3 separate regions of the Homo sapiens genome follow, and all the other regions are reported to be linked to region 2. The links are microRNA targets in miRTarBase. Many come from high-throughput screens and were not tested one by one. Region 2 holds a microRNA gene; each other region holds the end of a gene's coding sequence.
What was found. The annotated mature microRNA hsa-miR-510-5p reads UACUCAGGAGAGUGGCAAUCAC and lies in region 2 at 2,940-2,961, shown strand. An mRNA with a match to its seed (bases 2 to 7 or 8) in the 3' UTR can be bound and repressed. Matches are read on the target gene's strand: a 7mer-m8 pairs with bases 2 to 8, a 7mer-A1 pairs with bases 2 to 7 and ends in A, and an 8mer does both.

Region 1: miRTarBase lists ZNF891 as a target of hsa-miR-510-5p. Seed matches in the 3' UTR shown: 8mer at 1,439-1,446.
Region 3: miRTarBase lists SRGAP1 as a target of hsa-miR-510-5p. Seed matches in the 3' UTR shown: 8mer at 2,335-2,342 and 8mer at 1,262-1,269.

The regions. Positions count from the first base shown.
Region 1 is chr12:133,116,633-133,120,876 of GRCh38, reverse strand. It overlaps ZNF891 (zinc finger protein 891), which reads left to right. Exons shown (of 2, transcript NM_001277291.2): 2 at 1-4,244. The coding sequence ends at 593. Among named protein-coding and RNA genes, the nearest start is that of ZNF891, 12 kb to the left of the region's middle.
Region 2 is chrX:147,271,095-147,275,338 of GRCh38, reverse strand. It overlaps MIR510 (microRNA 510), which reads left to right and starts at 2,931; the gene lies at 2,931-3,004. LOC105373347 (periphilin-1) reads right to left here. Exons shown (of 4, transcript XR_005647084.2): 4 at 3,444-4,244.
Region 3 is chr12:64,141,979-64,146,222 of GRCh38, reverse strand. It overlaps SRGAP1 (SLIT-ROBO Rho GTPase activating protein 1), which reads right to left. Exons shown (of 22, transcript NM_020762.4): 22 at 1-3,928. The coding sequence ends at 3,551. Among named protein-coding and RNA genes, the nearest start is that of KICS2, 78 kb to the left of the region's middle.

The sequences.
Region 1 (4,244 bases), not on the chromosome of region 2:
ATGAATGTAAAGAATGTGGTAAAGTGTTCAATGATTCCTCAACCTTAAGGAGACATGTAAGAACTCACACTGGAGAGAAACCCTATGAATGTAATCAATGTGGAAAAGCTTTCAGTCAAAAAACATCCCTTAAGGCTCACATGAGAACTCACACTGGAGAGAAACCTTATGAATGTAATCAGTGTGGAAAATCCTTTGGCACAAGCTCTTACCTTATAGTGCACAAGAGAATACACACTGGAGAAAAACTCTATGAATGCAGTGAGTGTGGAAAAGCCTTCAACACGAGCTCTCACCTTAAAGTTCATAAGAAAATTCATACCGGAGAGAATGTTTATGAATGCAGTGACTGTGGGAAAGTTTTCAGTGGGGTCTCATCCCTTAGAATGCATATAAGAACTCACACTGGAGAGAAACCCTATGAATGTAAGGAATGTAGGAAAGCCTTCAGTGTTTCCTCTTCCCTTAGGAGGCATGTGAGAATTCACACTGGAGAGAAACCCTATGAATGTATTCAATGTGGAAAAGCCTTCAGTCAGAGCTCTTCACTTATTATACACAAGAGAATTCATACTGAGAGAGAAACCCTGTAAGTGTTATGAATGTGGAATTGCTGTTTTCATTGTCTTAAGGTGGATTCCAAGCTCCTTGTCTCAGTCTTTGTTCTCTAAAAGAACGATTTAAGGTTACAAATGGCTCTTTTTTTAATATAACATTTTCTGTAAATACTAATTATGACTTTTTTTGATCCATGGCTGTTTAGAATTAGGTATTTTTAATATGTGAGGTAGGTATATTTTCAGTTATCTTTTTATTGTTGGTTTCTAGGTTAATTCCATTGTGTTCAGAGAATCTGGACTATATTTTACTGCTTTGTTGGTGTTTTTATAAAAGTTGTTTTCTGGCCCAGTGAGACTGGTATTGCTAGCAGCCAACCAAACATTTGAGCTCATCTTTCCTTACTAATGAATTCCATCTTAGCCAAGAACAATAAGGTCTCTGGTTATAGAACGCTTCTTTGACTTCTTGTAGCTAAGGGTAGCCATATCATTCATTCTTGCTGATTCAAAAATAGACATATCACTGGGATCAGAACTATCTATCTTGTCCTCTACTTTTTGCACTTCATCTTTGTCCCTATGAATTGGCCATTCCTGAAGCTGCTGAAAGAGCTATCTTGTGATCATGAAAATGACAGCTGTAGCCAAGGGATGAAGTAGAAGAAAGAGATCCCTGTTCCTCAAAGAAATCTTTAAATAGTTGTACCAGCCCTGCACTACTTGTATCTGGATATGTTCCTACATGAGAAAAATAAGGTTTTTTGTTTGTTTTTTGAGATGGAGTCTCGGTATGTTGCCCAGGCTGGAGTGCAGTGGCACAATCTCAGCTCACTGCAACCTCCACCTCCCAGGTTCAGGTGATTCTCCTGCCTCAGCCTCCTGAGTAGCTGGGATTACAGGCACCACCGCCATGCCTGGCTAATTTTAGTATTTTTAATAGAGACGGGGTTTCACCATGTTGGCCAGGTTGGTCTCAAACTCCTGACCTCAGGTGATCCACCCACCTAGGCGTCCCAAAGTGTTGGCATTACAGGCGTGAGCCACTGTGCCCGGCCAAGAAAAATATGTTAATTGATTTTTTCTTTTTTTTTTTCAATTTTTCAGACAGAGTCTCTGTCTCTCAGGCTAGAATGCAGTGGTGTGGTCATGGCTCATTGCAACCTCGACCTCCTGGGCTCAGGTGATCCACCACAGTCTCCTCAGTAGTTGGGATCACAAATGCATGCCACCATGCCTGGCTAATTTTAAAAATATATATTTTGTAGAGACAGGCTCTTCCTACATTGCTCAGACTGGTCTGAAACTCCTGGGCTCAAGCAGTCCTCCTGCCTTTGCCTCCCAAAGTGCTAGGATTCCAGGCATGAGTTACCATGCCTGGCTCTTACTGATTTTTTTTAAAGCACTACATAAATACAGTCAACGCAGTCACCATATTGTAGAAAAACAGAAGTATATACAGTTAAATGTTTTATGTTGGATGTACACATTTGAAGAGGAACATAGAAAAAAAGTATGGAAAAGGAATGTTGACCGAGCTTTTATGCTTAAGCAGCAGATGAAGATAGAACCAAGATCACTGAAAGCAAGTGTTTAGAACAGCAAAAAGAGTATCCCAACATTTCAGCATTGGAACTACAGAAAGTTTTCAGACAGAGGGGAAGTTACCAATTTTAAATGCTAAGTAAAGCATGAGATTTTGCTGCTTGATCTTGCAGATACTGACCAGATTAGTTCTAACAAAATATGGAAGGAGTGGCATACGGTGGAAGAAAGAAGGCAGTAGCTGCTGTTGTAGTTATTCATGTTAGCCTCAGAGGATGGTGAGACATCCAGATGAAGAGGTTGGTACGCAATTCTAGAATTGAGGAGGTGTCTAGATAGAGATATAAATTGTAGTGACATCAGTAAAGAGACAATAACAGGCTTTGGAAGGTGAGTAAGAATGAAAAGGGAAGGTCTGCCACCTACCCTGAAGACATACATTTAAAGGAACTATAGTAGAGAGATAAGAGGAAAACAAGAAGAGTGGAGTTTCACTGAACCAAGACAAACAAGTTTCAAAAAGGAAGGTGAAGTTGGCCAGGTGTGGTGGTTCACGCCTGTAATCCTGGCACTTTGAGAGGCTGAGGCAGGCGGATCACAAGGTCAGATCGAGACCATCCTGGCCAACATGGTGAAACCCTGGTTCTACTAAAATACAAAAATTAGCCGGGTGTGGTGGCACATGCCTGTAGTCCCAGCTACTCAGGAGCTGAGGCAGAAGAATCACTTGAACCTGGGAGGCAGAGGTTGCAGTGAGATGAGATCTCACCACTGCACTCCAGCCTGGTGACAGAGCAGGACTTCATCTCAAAAAAAAAAAAAAAAAAAGGAAGGTGAAGGTAAATGTTTTTAGTGTTACTTAGGGATCCAATTAGATGAAGTCTAAAAAGGTAAACATATACAGCCAAGTGAAGATCATTTGTGATTGTAGTTGGAAATAACATAGTGGTACATAATGAAGATGGTTGCTAGATTGGGCTGACTTTAGGAATCAATAAAGGGCAAAGAAGTAAAGACTGGATGTAGACAAGTTTGAATAATAGGAGAAAGGGTAGTAGCTGGAGAGATTTGGAGTAAAGAGATAATATGTTTAAAATATGAAAAACTAGAACATGTTTGAATTCTAATGTGATGAATGTAGTATGGTGAGGTTTAATATGCAGCATAATAAAGTTTAATATAAGCTTCTGAGAATGGGGTGTAGATGTTTAGAGCACAAACAAAAGTATTGGTGTTTGCCATGAGGCGGAGGGATACTCCCACCATTCTTTCAGGAGTAGAAAAATGGGTGGGTTGGTTTAAATTACTTGTTTATTTATTTACACCTAACTGTACTAAGCAGTGATCAGAATATGTGAACTATATAATGTTTTGTGTTTCCTAAGAACTGTGTGGCAGCCACTGCTAATTACTAACCAAATATATATATTTTTTATTCTTTATGAATAGATCTTCAGTTTTGCTAACAGTAGTATTGTATTTAGCTACAAAACTACTTATCCCAACCTCTTTGTAGCCTTGATGCCATTTCTACTGTTCCTGGCCAGTAAAATATAGATATATGATTATAGGTTTCATGGTAAGATTATCTGCTAAGAGGAAGGTGGATGAAATTCTGCAAGGAGGTTTTAGTGAAGAAGATCTCTATGTATTTGAAAGTCCTTCCAAGTTATCAATAGAGCCATCAGTGGAGAAGACAGCAAAGCAAGTAGCAAAGTCTATGTGATTGAGGAGAGGTCATTTAAATAAAAGATAGCAAGGAAGAGAGGGAGAAAGTGGTATAACTAGATGGTATGAACTTCAAAGGAAGGAGTGGTTTTCTCCAGGCTGCAATGGTTAGAAGCAGTGTTAGGGAGTAAGGAAGATACTGATCCCACTTCCAACCTGTGGATATGTGGAATACATGAGAATAAGCCCCCTTGTGATGTGATTGTTGTCAGGTAGGTGTTTTTTCCTTCCCAGGGAACAGCCAAGTTTAAATTAATGAAAGGAAATGTTCAGGGAAATAGTTGAGGATATTAAGGGAGTTTATTAAGGGAATCTCAGAGGGCACCATGAAAGAGTCTCCAGAAGGGCAGGGGTTTAGGGTTTCTGGCTTTGGCCTGAGGAATACAGAAGATTGTAATGACATTATTGATAGAG
Region 2 (4,244 bases):
ATTACAGGCGTGTGCCACCATGCCCAGCTAATTTTTTGTATTTTTAGTAGAGACAGGGTTTCACCATGTTGGCCAGGATGGTCTCAATCTCCTGACCTCATGATCCGCCTGCCTTGGCTTCCCAACGTGCTGGGATTACAGGCATGAGCCACCGTCCCCGGCCCAGATATGTGATTTTCAAATATTTTTTCTTAGTCTGTGGTTTACTTTTGCATTCCCTTAACCATGTGTTGTACAGAGCAAACTTTTTTTTTTTTGTATTTTCATAAAGGATGATTCACCATTTGTTATTTTATGGTTTACATTTTAATGCCATATCTTAGAGTGTCTAAATTTAGGTACGTGATTCTTGGTTGACTGTTTTCCTTTTAGCACTATAAATGTTATTCCAGTGTCTTCCGGCCTCTATGGTTTCTAATGAAAAGTCAGCGAAATATATTGTAGAGGATCCCTTGTATGCATTAAGTTTATTTTTTCTAGTAGATTTCAATATTCTCTTTTTTTGTCACCAAAAAGTAGATATGTCTCTCAGCTTGGATTTCTTTTGTTTATGCTACCTGTAGTGTTTTGCACTTCTTAGGTATAATAAAAAATGTTTTTCATCAAATTTAGATATTCACAGCCATTTTTAAAAAATACTTTTTTGCTCCTTTCTATCTTTCACTTCTGCTACCTTAATATGCGTATTTTGATGTGCATGCTGGTGTTCTGCCTTTCTCTGAGGCACTGTTCATTTTCTTCACTCATTTTATTCTTTTATTTTTATAGAATTATCACTTTCAAGGTATCTTAAAGTTCACTGATTCTTTTTTCTCCTGAGTCCTTCTAGTGAATTTTTCACTTCAATTATTTTACTTTTATACTCCATAAATTCCTTTTCTTTAAATATTTCTACCTCTTTATTGATAGACTCTTTTGATGAGGCATTGTCAACATAGCTGCCTTTACTCTTCCAAGCACCATTTGTTTAGTGTTTTGAAAATACTTACAGTGGATGCTTTAAGGTTGTTGTTAAGTATAACATTAGGCTCTGTTGCCAGCATTTTCTGTAATCTACTTTTGTCCTGTGTGTTATATTTTTATTTTCTCTGTATGTCTGAGAATGTCCAGTTGAGAACTGGATATTTTATTAATATATTATAGAAGTTTTGGATGCAGATCTTGCTTCTGGGGATTGTTGTTGTCTGATTTTTTTATTTGTTGATTTACTTGGCTGTGCTGTTTTAGTAAAATCTATATTCTTTTTATTGTGAAAACCTAATGTTGTTCCTTGCAAGGTATAACTTTGGATATGTACACAGTCACTCTAAACTGTCGTGATTTTAGTAGAGTTCTTTGTTCTTTTGCTGCTCTTTCTGTTAAGCTGCCTGCCTCTGCGGTATCACACACAGGTAATAAGCTTCAGTGTTTGCAGGTGGATTATTTTGTAGCTTTTGAGAATACCATGGGCAAAAATTGCTTTAGAGTCTTATCCAAATACTTTGCAGATAATTTTTGGGGCAGGTCTCTAAAGGCTATTCTCCTACCAGAAAGGCTCTTATTAGCTGTCTGTTTCCTGATTCCAGTTCCATCCTAATTACTTGGCACCACAGTCTACATTATTTGTGAGACCTTTCTTGTCTTCTGTTACAACTGAAGTCATTTTCTTTTGAGAAGGAAAGCTTTAATGCTTTTTCTCTTAGGGCTAGCCTCTCTCAATGGACAAATCCCTGAGCAGTTGCCCCAAGCTGAGAATAAGGCAGTGTCCTGCTTCTTGTACACTGACACCCCTGCTTTACAACCAGGGTGATGAGTGATAGCAGTGGATTCTAGTGTTCTGGTTTGCCTCACCCAAAGTGGAAGCTCCCCCTGATGATTAAGCTGAGATGAGGAGTATTACGTACTCAATTATCTCCGCCGGCTGCACCTGGTATAGAGCCTAAACCCTGTGATGAAGAATGGCTATAGTAGCAGGCCCCTGACCTCTAACCTCACATGCCTAGTATTTAGCCTCTGAAACACTAAACTGGGTTTGTGGAGTGGATGAGAAATTCTGGAGGCTTCTTAAACCCACAAGTATATTGTTGCTCTTGATTAGGAGATAGGGGAACAGGTAATTTTGTAAGCCACAGTCACTTTAAATTCTCAGTTCTCAGTCTCTGAAATCCAGTCACCAAAATTGTGTCCATATTTTTGTGTGTGCTAATTTTAGTTTTGCAGGGAAACACAGTCACCTAGTAGCATGTGTCTCAGATTGGAAAAATGCAAACACATGCTAAAAAGAACCTTGCTCCCAGAAAAGACGAAGAAAACCCAGAAACTGAAAAATCTCTAAGAGTGTCTGGGTGCCTAGCACAATTTCTGTTTTGTAGATCACTCCTGGTAAGTAAAATGGGATTTTTTTTTTCACTTCAAAATTTGATGAGGATAAAAGAAATTCTACTCTCTCCATCTTACCACTCACTGATTATTCTCTCTTCTTTGCTTCCAGGATCCTGTGTGATGTCCTTGCTTATTCTGTAGTGAGGAGTTGTAGTAAGGAACTCAGGTAGAAGAACTCAGATCTTTGGATGATAGGCACAGATTGGTGAGATAGAGTGTAGTGTCTGGGTAGCTACTGAATCTGGGGAATGCAATCTACTCATTAATACTTTATATAAAACAATGGGAAAAGAAATAGAATAAGGCATCGAATGAGATTTTTCCCGTTAGCAGGAGAGCCTAGCAGGAAGGTTCTTAGTCCTGAAAACTGCCATGTGAAAACTCCAAACCATGAGTGGACAACACTCAAGGGGGAATGAGTGAATAAAAAATGATGTAGGTTCTTCAGGAATCATTTACATAAATGCCAACGGCCACTTACAGACTGAAAACATTTGAGAGGTTGTTTGAAAAGTGTGTGATTAAGTATTTAGGCTGTGCTCCCATTTTCAGGAATGCTGTGTATGTGTGTGGTGTCCTACTCAGGAGAGTGGCAATCACATGTAATTAGGTGTGATTGAAACCTCTAAGAGTGGAGTAACACATGACATGTACTACATATGCAATGATATTGCAGATATTTAGTTGCATGCAGTGGTATGCTTTTCTTAGCACATAGATAGTCCATCTGGTACCCTCCTCAATACTAAACTAGCTGGGGAGTTTCTAGATAAACTTCTGAAGACAAGACATAGGAAATAAAGGTTTTGGGAAAAAGTGTTTCACTGATTTCTTAGGGGCTTCATATCCTTCTTTACAAACTTGCAAGACTAAAATGGGAAAAAAGCCTTTTAGTATGGTCATGGTGTTCCTATCTGCCTGTGAATTTTTTTTTTTTTTGATAACCCTTACCTGCGGGGTCCATCCCACAGACCCTGGCCAAGCAACGGATGAAAGGAGTACTCAGCCACAGGCATGCAGTGTAAGAGCAGCTACAGGAATGCCCAGCACTAATGGCTGAAGAGTGAGCAGTCTCGAACAGCTGGAGCTGCTTGCTTTTATTCAGTACAGACAAAATAATGAAAGCCTGGAGCCAACACAATCTGTGGGTAATTAACATTATTATTCCCCCTTTCAGGGAGCAGTCTCCTGCCCTGATGATCAAAGTCGGTTTCCGGACAATGTAAGTAAACAAGCCTGTTTATGCCAAATTCCCCTATACTTCCTTACCTACCCCTTGCCCTCTGCCTCAGGGTAAGAGAACAGCTGCCTTCAGCTTATTCATCCCTGAAGCTATCCAGAGCCTTCCCGCCTTTCAGAAGGTCTGTTCCTTTCCCTATACCTTCTCCTACCACTCTGACCGATCTCCCGCGTCTCCCCCTTTTCTGTTTTTAGCATCGGGTTTTGTTGATTGAATAGTACAGATGTGTGCAGTGACAGATTTGACAGGCGCAGCGGTTACAGCTCGTGTTCCGGCTTTGCATCCTAGAATTAGTAAATAACATAAGTCAAACATTAGTATAGTCACTATTATTCTTTTCCAATCAAGGAGAGATATGTAGTGTTACTTGGCACCTCAGTTCAATGTGTGCCATTATTAAGGAACCCCACTGGGGGCATGTCAACCCCTCCCAGCTAAGCAGTTACATTATTAGAGGATGGGAAGGGGGTGTCTGCCAAGGTAACAGGTTGGAAGAAAGGCAGATCTTAGAAGATGGGCCCAATAGAATGTAGCAGGTATGAGTTGCAGGCAAAGTGAGAGAATAAGAAAGGTGAATACCCTATGAGAGTTGCAAGGTACAATAGAGAGCATAGCAAGGAACAGATTATCTGGAGTGATGGTG
Region 3 (4,244 bases), not on the chromosome of region 2:
ATTATGTTGTACGAAGATGTGCAAAGCTGTTGAATGGTGTTGACACTGAACGTGAACATGGAGCTCTACAAAGCGCCACTCAGCAGGTTCAAACAGTTCACGTAACGCCCATTAGAAAATGTGTACTAAGTACACCTTTCTCTCTATCCCCAAATCCACTCCCCAAACCCCAACCCAGTCCAAAAGGCTGACTTGATGAATCTCCTTCAGTGAGTTCTATGGATGGGATGTGAACACACAGTTATATCAGCTGAGAATACATATTCTTGTGTCAGTGGAGTCAGGTAATCTTTGTAGAGCCATTATTTACCCACCATCAAAAAGCTCCCCTCCCCAAATTGCACATGAAGCCTGATAAGCTCCTTGAAATTGGGGGCAGAACACCTCAAGGCCTCATTATCCTTCTTCTCTCGTTTCCCTGTGTCTTCCCACCTCCCCTGTGTGCTGCCTCTGTGGCTATAAAGAAGGGCTGTGAACCTTCTCAGCTGCAGTGGCTTTTAATGAGCTTTACTGAGCATGATTCTGGATTCTTTGTGAAGTGGCCACCTTGTCTTATCTCTGGAATCTGAAGACATTTAATAAACCAAGTAAGGAGAGGTGAGTCTTTACTGAGTCCTCACTCACTCTGAGGTCATACCCTTCATTTGGAATTGAAAAAAAAAAAAAGTCTCAAGCTGACAATAGGAGTATAGGGAAATAAGATGGAGACAGGTAAAGTGAGTGATGGGAGAGTATTAGGAGCTGTTTCCTGAAACAAGGCACAGCCTGTGAGGCTCTGCAGCAGCACGACTCCTGCCGGCCAAGACAGCAAAGTCCTGATGGGGAGCACAGAAAGGCAATCCTCGTTCCACCGTAGGTGGACACATCAGAGAGAGGAGCCGCTGGGGAGGATGACCAGATAGAAGGCTGAATAAATGAACAGGTAGGAGGAAGATCTGAAAAGCTAAGGCTGAAGCTCAGAAAAGACATTGAAAAAAAATAAATTCAAAGACACCTCTGGCCCTTTGATGCCCTCTGTTAACATCTTACTCTTCCATCAAACAAGGAATATGGTTTTTAAGAATTCTTACTATTTTAAAGAAGTGGTGGAATGGCCGGGCATGGTGGCTCACATCTGTAATCCCAGCACTTTGGGAGGCTGAGGCTGGTGGGTCACCTGAGGTCAGGAGTTTGAGACCAGCCTGGCCAACATGGTGACACCCCATCTCTACTAAAAATACAAAAATTAGCTGGGCGTGGTGGTGGCGCCTGTAATCCCAGCTACTCAGGAGAATTGCTTGAACCCGGGAGATGGAGGTTGCAGGGAGCCGAGATTGCACCACTGTACTCTGGCCTGGGCGACAGAGCAAGACTCCAACTCAAAAAAAAAAAAAAAAAAAAAAAAAAGTGGGGGATTATTTTGGAAAGTTTAAATTCCTAAGGAATTTGTGAGGATTGTTTAAAAGGGCTAGTGCTATTCAAAGCTCAGTCTTGGCTGGATCTCCACGGTGTCCAAGGGTGCTGAAGGACCCCAAAAGCTCAGGAGAAATGGGGAGGGGCTAGACAAGGTGCTGTCCTGGGCTTCTTTTTCAAAATGGGCAAAAAGTATGGCTCTGAAAATTTGGAGGTTTAAAAGTTTACCATACCTAGAAATACATGGGAAAAAAGTCACTATTCATTTGTGAAATTAGGCCCCAGGCAAGCAATCAGCAGTGTGACTCTGAAAGTAACAATATCTCATCAATTTAATCTCTTCCTGCAATAGAATGACTACACTGGCAAACTGAGGTAGAGATCAAAGTAATGATCTTGATTTTAGTACAGATCCCAGTTCTTTTCTGCACGATGCATTCACCAATGGGCTGATGAAGTAAAATCTACACTGTGTAGCTCTTAGATGGGCGTGCAATTGGCTGCCAGTTTGAAATGAAACCAAGAAGGAAATTAATGGTGGGCCAGAGGGATTAGTTGTGGGAAATCCATTTCTCCCAACAACAACAACAACAACAAAAATCTTTATCAGTAACTTCAATGATAGAATAGATAAAATGCTCATAGGTCTACAGGTGATATCAGCTGCTGCTAGTAGGAGAATGGAAATCAAAGCAAATTTTCTTAAGATGGGGGAAAATGTAGCATAAATATAGGCTTAAAAAATTGCCTGTGTGCTAGGATGCCAGAGAAAGAGGGTCTCCAATTGAGAGTTCAGCTGACTATGGGAGTTACATAGAGCCCACATACAAAACCAAAACCAAAAAGGGGAAAAGGGACAAAGAAAAAGAAGTTGTGGTTGTGAGGTACACAACTGGGTGAGAACCACAAGGCCATGTTCTGCTGATGGCCCTGCATGGCTCTTACTCAGGTACCAGGGCCAGTTCAGGGTTGGCTCAAAGACAAATGGAGAGGACAGTTGGGATTTCAAATTTAGGATCATCAGGACTTTGTAGCATTTTTTTTTTTTTTAAGAGACAGGGTCTCACACTATGCTGCCCAGGCTGGACTCGAACTACTAGGCCCAAAGCCATCCTCCTGTGTAAACCACCCGAGTAGCTGGGAGTACAGGTGTGCACCACCATGCCTGGGCTTTGTAGCATGTTTAAAGGAACCTAGGTGATTTAGTCAAAAGAGAACACTGCATGAACCAAGGCCTCAGGTGCTTCTTGCTGCCTTCATTTCCACAGAGGAGAACACAGGGATTTAGAGGAGATGGAAACATTTTCTAGGCAGTTATTGAATAACGGATCTTTGGAGGAGTTCGTGGAGTAGTGTAACCAGAAAGTCTTTAAAATTAAACCCTTCTAATCGTTTGTAAGTGTAGATGGGGGGACTTGGAAATCTCCGGGGCCTAATCATGCTCGCAAAAGGAGTGACATTAATAGCTTTGGAGATGGTGTCTTCCTCTCCTTTCCCAGGTTAAGTTCAAGCAGTAACAGCAGAGGTTCTACCTCCTTCCATCGAGTCTTTAAGCTGGACCCGGGGAAATAACTGTTAGGAAAGAGGCAAGCATCCAACCCACTCGAGCTGTGGGCTGACAGTCCCACTGGGATCGTCCCATGGAGACAATTGCAAGTCTTTTGCATGAGCTAAACCCCGCTCCACATGGAACCGAAGGTGCTCATTGTCAGCTACCACGCAATGCCATTATCACCTTTCAGCCCAAGTGCCACAGACCAACACTGGCTATACTCCAATGAGGTGTGGCATTCGGGTTCTTCTGCCTTCAGGTCACAACCTTTCTGACTCAGCTGGGCTACATTAAACCTGAAGCTCTGTACAATGTGGAGAGCGGTGTTGCCTTCATTACAAGTGGTGCAGCATTGGATTTTCAAGTAAGTCTAAGTGTTTCTATTGTCCTTAAAATGACATATGTCCAGTTATTTAAAAAAATTACAAAATACAAATGCCCGTGTTAATTTAGCTAGTCTCAGACATTACATTCGACAACATAGAAAAGCCAAAAGATCTCCAGTTATAAGCACAAAACTAAGGAAAGTTATGGATCAGTGACTTTTGTCACTAATCCATTTTCTTTTTTAAGTCACCTCCCTTTATGGCCTTGCTTGGCTGGTTTTTACATTGTGCATGACTTGTCTGTTGGACCCTGGGGAGGTGGGGCAGGTCCTATGGTAGGATTTGTTTTTGGAAGAACAGCAGGTTTTGGCCTAAGGGCTGGAGGCTTCAGCTGCACGCCCATTCTGGGTGCCACCATAGGCTTGAAAGTACTCATTGTGTCACTGGAGGAGCTCGTGCTACGTCGAATCTGAGGCTCGGAGCTCCTGAGGGCAACGTTGTGCAAAGGGCTGAGAGATTCCGTGGAAGTGGCAGGGGTGGGAGAGTTTTTCACTTGCTCCAGGGTATCCAGCACCACATCAGGGGCATGCTTTGCTGTGCTCTGTCTCTCCAGTTCTCGGAGTTCATTCAAAGCTGTGTTCATCGTTTCTTCAATATCCTATTGAAGAATAATCGGAAAGAGAGAAAGCACAGACTGATAATGAATACTAATGTATAGAAACCCAGACACTTAATTTCAAAGTAAACGGCCCAGCAGAGTATGGATATCTTTGACTCCATAGTCTGCAGAATATGTAAACATTATGCCATCTCACACAATCATCATTTTGATTCTTGATTCAGGAAACTGAGATATAATGGCTCATGGAGCCATGTATCAAACAATGGCCTTCCTAAGGCCCTAAGGTAGCCTTCTAATGGTCTCTGCCTTGCATGCTGACTTAAAAAAAAATTTTTTTCTTTTGAGGCAGGGT